Regions from separate parts of the Homo sapiens genome. Here region 2 is linked to region 1. A link means that fine-mapping ties the variant in region 1 to the expression of a gene that starts in the linked region. Tissue or cell type: esophagus muscle. Region 1 holds a variant in brackets; the other region holds the start of a gene. All regions are shown on one strand. Distances are from middle to middle.

Region 1 (2,760 bases):
CAGGTGCCCCCCACCACGCCCGGCTAATTTTTTGTATTTTTTTTTTTTTTAGTAGAGACGAGGTTTCACCGTGTTGGCCAGGATGGTCTCGATCTCCTGACCTCGTGATCTGCCCACCTCGGCCTCCCAAAGTGCTGGGATTACAGGCATGAGCCACTGTGCCCGGCCAGTAAAAATATTTTTTAATGAAACAACAGAAAGTATCACATAGAGGGCCAGGCGCGGTGGCTCATGCCTGTAATCCCAGCACTTTGGGAGGCCAAGGCAGGCAGATCACAAGGTCAGGAGATCGAGACCATCCTGGCTAACATGGTGAAACCCCATCTCTACTAAAAATACAAAAAATTAGCCGGGCATAGTAGCGGGCGCCTGTAGTCCCAGCTACTCGGGAGGCTGAGGCAGGAGAATGGCATGAACTCGGGAGACGGAGCTTGCAGTGAGCCGAGATTGCGCCACTGCACTCCAGCCTAGGCGACAGAGCCAGACTCCATCTCAAAAAAGTATCACATAGAGATGAGTTATATGTACTCGTTCACATTGTAAAATATTAATATGTCAATATGAGTGATGGTTAAAAAAGGTAATAAAACACTTTTAGGGTAAACAGCACTATATCTAGAACCACAAGACCAAGGGCACAGTCTAATTCATGACATCAATGGACTCATTCAATTTGAGCCATGGTTTCAGCCAGTGTAAATGAAAGTATACCTACTCCTGCATCTCAGCCATTCTTACCTGGGCAAAGGTTTTATATCAGTGTAACCAAAACAGCTATACTTTTTTCCTCAAAAAAAAAAAAAAAAAGTTTATTTTAGAGTGAGAACATGTCATACTACTTTTAAATCTTGGAGCATTCAAGGTAAGTAGTCTTGGTACAGGATACAATCAAATCATGATACACTTCAGTGATTTTATACTGAGTCACATACTTAATATAAAGGCACACTGTACTGAATAAAAAAATAAGTGTTAAGTTCTTGACCTTTTAAATTAGAATTTTATAAAGTGCTTTTCATAAAGTCTTATATATTATAGTAATTAAGTGGATATAATTTCCTTAACAAAGGCACCTTGAAAAGTTATTGGCACATGAGATTTTGTCTGGTCTTTTTTTTTTCTTTTGATAATTTCAAAGTCTCTTCACATGTGTTCTCTTCCACTTTAAGTTTTCCTTAACAATTCATCATATGAATAGCCAGCCCTTTTAGAGAATAAGGTCAACTTTTTTTTTTTTGAAACAGAGTCTCGCTCTGTCACCCAGGCTGGAGTGCAGTGGCGTGATCTTGGCTCACTGCAGCCTCCGCCTCCCGGGTTCAAGCAATTCTCCTGCCTCAGCCTCCCAAGTAGCTGGGACTACAGGCGTGCACCGCCACACCCAGCTAATTTTTTTATTTTTTTTAGTAGAGACAGGGTTTCACC[A/G]TGTTGGCAGGATGGTCTTGATCTGACCTCGTGATCCGCCCGCATTGGCCTCCCAAAGTCCTGGGATTACAGGCATGAGCCACTGCACCCGGCCGAGAATAAGGTAAACTTTAACTTGGCACTGTAAAGGTCAATTTTCAGGCAGTCTTAGAGTTTAGCAATTTCTCTAGTGTATAAACTGATTCTTAACGATTTAAAGAAAATTATATTCAAGTGGCAAATTTGGAGGCAACAGGCTACTTCGGAGTCCATGATATGAGATGGCGTTTTAAATACATGTTTTATCTTCAAGGTTTTCAGCTCTTTTCTCTGGACCATCTGGATATAAGTTGATAGCTGTCACAGGTATGACGTCCACTTTATCCAACTGAAGAATTCCTCTGAAATAGAAAGTGATTAATTACTATCAAAATTAAATGTTTCCTCTGCCTGTAGTTTGATAGTGAGAAAAGGCTACTTCAAGGTTATAATATACACCTAAGGTTAGGTGCTTTTGCTACATTCTATTTAAAAATTCATAGTGGTTGTACAAACTGAGCCCAAAGTCACTTTAACCAAACTGGCTGAGAGAATAGAAAGGCATCGAGGAAGTTCATTATTTCCTATTTTAGGGAAGAATAGGGTAAGTATAGATCTCCAAGGCAGAGTTAGGTTCCTAGATACACCCAGGCTGAGCAAAAAGCCTAAGCCTAAGCCTCTCTCTAAATAATACTCACCACCACAACACAACCTTAGGTCTTTAGATAGTGTTGCTCTTTTTGTTACTTAAAATCCCTGACCAGAGAGTACGTCTTTGGATTGAATCTAGGACCCTGCATTGTAAATTCAGTGTTATTCTAATAAGAACATCAACGGGGGTTAGTTGTTTATAGAACCAAACAGATTCTAAAGTTCACAGGGGAGTAACTGCAAGAACAGCCATAAGATTTTTTTTAAAAGAACAATGGGGAGAAGACAAAGTTGTCTTAAGTAGCTCTCAAAGGTTTTATTAAAACATGATAGTAGGCCAGGTGTAGGGGCTCACACCTATAATCCCAGCACTTTGGGAGGCCAAGGCGGGCAGATCACTTGAGCCCAGGAGTTCAAGATCAGCCTGGGAAACATGGCAAAACCCCATCTCTACTAAAAATAGAAAAAATTAGCTGGGCATGGGACACATGCAGTCCCAGCTAGCTAGCTATTCAGGAGGCTGAGGTGGGAGGATCGCTTGAACCCGGGAAGTGGAGGTTGCAGTGAGCCGAGATCGTGCCACTGCACTGCCGCCTGGGTGACAAAGTTAGCCCCTGTCTCAAAAACAAAAACAAAACATGAGAGTAATTAAAACTGTGCTACTGGCAC
Region 2 (2,627 bases), 25 kb after region 1:
GGTTTCACCTTGTTGGTCAAAGTGACACTTACCGTGCCCTTCGCCTTTGTATTTAGAGTGTTCATATTCAAGTCTTGACTAGGAAGAGGTGTACCGACATAGTTTCTTGTCATTCTCAGAACACTTGCTCTTTAAAATATTCAAACTTTTCCCTACCATTCTACTGAAAAAAGGCTGATACTGGCCTAGGTAGGCACGACTCTACGGCAGGAATGGTGAGCATCAGCCACGTTTTAATGTTAGGATGCCTCGATTCTCCCACCTCAGCTGGCATCAGAAGCACCTGCAGGACTCTCCAACCCGGACTGCTGGGCCCCGCCCCCAGAGGCCGGGCTGAGTCCCCAGGGGATGCGGACACCGCCGATCGCGCCCCGCCGTGAGAACTTCTCCTCCAACATCCGACAAAAACATTACGTCGCGCGAGGGCCAGGTCTCTCCCTCTGCCCACCTGAGCCCGGCGGAGCCCCGCAGCCTCGGAACGGCGGACCCTCGCGATCGCAGGCCGAGCAGGCACAAGTGGCCTGGAAATGCGCGAAGTGGGCAACTTCCACACTTCCCGAGCACACAAACATTCCTTGCCCAAGCGCTGGCTCTACCCCGGGAAGGCGCCATTACGAAGGCCTGATCACCGGCAACCGCGCGCTTCGACGGCAAAGCCCCGTCAGGTCGCGCGCCGGCTTGGGCCGCCGGAGAGTCGGTGTGGAGTGGCTCGAGGCTCACTCACAGCGACGCAGCCCCAGTGGGTCCCTTTCCTCTTACCTCGGCCTCCCACGCCGCCCCCATTTCCTGGGGTGCTTCTCCCCACACCTCCTTCGGGGGCCCGGACCCCCGCCCCTGCCCGCCGGTGGGATGTGGGAAGCGTCACTGTGGACAGCCCGGGCCTCCCGGAGAGTCGGAGTCGTAAAGCGGCCAGCCAGGCCCGCCCTGCCCTACCTGTGGGGCTCCGGACAGCGGCGGCGGCTCGGGGGCGCCCGTCGTCAGCCAGCCGGAGGCGGGTAGCGCCACGAACAGCAGGAGCCGGAGGGCGAGCGACCCCGGTGGAGCGCCCTCCATCTTGGACAACCCGGGCAGAGGGCAGCCGCGGCCGGGAGGTGAGGGCGGAGCCGGCCCGCGGGCGGGACGGAGCTTCGGCGGGAGGGACGGGGAGGGGCGGGGAGAGACGGGGAGGGGCGGGACGGGCCCTCCCCTCCCCGGGCGGCCGCGGAGAGGCGCGGGGACGCTCCGAGATCCGGCTCGCCAGGGAAAGGCGTTTGCGCACGCGCAGCGCCGCGCGGCGTCGAGGGGCGGAGTGAAATCTTGGAAGGTACGGCCCCTCATTAGACCCGCCCTCAGGATTGGACAGGACTCCAACTGGAGCGATGTAAATGTCCTCGTAACCATTATTTTTAAAATTAGTATTTACACACATGCATGTGTCTGTGTGTGCACATGTACATGTACCTATACGATGAAAACAACGGTAATATTTCAGAAAACTGTTATACATTAAAAATGAAACATCGCATTTACAGGGGAAGTTTTTATTAAGTGGGTAATTCCCCACCCTTGGCTGCACGTGGGACTCTCCCGGGCAGCTTTAAAAAGTACTGGGGTCTTCCTGAACACCCCACTTTCCAGCCTGGGCTGCGGCTCGGGCCCTGGTGGTTTTTTAATTTTCTCGGGTGATTCATTGTGGGGCCAAGGTTGAGGATGCGCCATGCTTACTGTTCAGCATTCTGCCGACCCCTGGAGGCGGCGCGGGGACAGCGCTCAGCTGGAAGGAAGCCAGCGCACCTGGGCTGTCAGTGCCTTTTTGGTCAGTATCGTAACTCTAAAGTGAAAGTGTTAGACTTTTCTTCCACCTTGCAGATTTAAAAAAAAAAAAAAGTTACGGAACCCTGTAAAGCAGAGTAGCAAGAAATTCAAGCATTTTAGATTAACAGGATTGCATGTTGATTGAGAAAAACTTGGAAACTTGGCCATTCAGGCAGAATAAGAGTAATATTTAGTCTTCCTTTGAAATAAAACTTTTGACATGAAATAAAACTTTTGACATGAAAAAGGAAACAAGAATCTATTTCTCTCTTTGAGCCCCCTTTACTCCTTTGAACACCCTCCTCCCACAGGCCTGCTGACCGCCACCGCCCCCTCCCCCGGCCCCGCCCCAGAATAAATTATAAACGTTTTGGCTAAAGACTCCTTTCAACTAACTCCGGGCTTACTCTGAGATTCCCCACGCCATTGTTAAGCTACAAGTGATTTCACAGCGAAGCCCCACACACTTCTGGGTTCCATCTGCAAACTTGGCCTTTTCCTTTTTTTCCTACTGCTGGAATTAAAAATGAATTTGGAGATGGGCGTGGTCATTTGTGCCTGTACTCCCAGCTATGCAGCAAACGCAGGCAGGAGGATCGCCTGAGTCTATTAAAAAAAAAAAAAAAAAAAGGAATCTAGAAGCCGGGTGCAGTGGCTCACGCCTGTAATCCCAACACTTTAGGAGGCCGAGGCGGGTGGATCACTTGAGGTCAGGAGTTCGAGAATAGCCTGGCCAACATGGTGAAACCCCATCTCTACTAAAAATACAAAAATTATCCAGGCATACTGGCACGCACCTGTAATTCCAGCTACTAGGGAGGCTGAGGCAGGAG

Evidence for each region. PIP is the estimated chance that this variant, and not a neighbour inherited with it, causes the effect.
Region 2: it holds the start of GINM1, and the variant in region 1 is fine-mapped to the expression of GINM1 in esophagus muscle (GTEx, PIP 0.96).

What each region holds. Positions count from the first base shown.
Region 1 is chr6:149,589,769-149,592,528 of GRCh38, reverse strand. It overlaps GINM1 (glycosylated integral membrane protein 1), which reads right to left. Exons shown (of 8, transcript NM_138785.5): 8 at 781-1,802. The coding sequence ends at 1,691. Among named protein-coding and RNA genes, the nearest start is that of GINM1, 25 kb to the right of the region's middle. The variant A/G (reference allele first, on the strand shown) is at 1,423.
Region 2 is chr6:149,564,841-149,567,467 of GRCh38, reverse strand. It overlaps GINM1 (glycosylated integral membrane protein 1), which reads right to left and starts at 1,093. Exons shown (of 8, transcript NM_138785.5): 1 at 934-1,093. The coding sequence starts at 1,053. RefSeq lists enhancers at 497-546, 1,797-1,926 and a silencer at 817-1,366.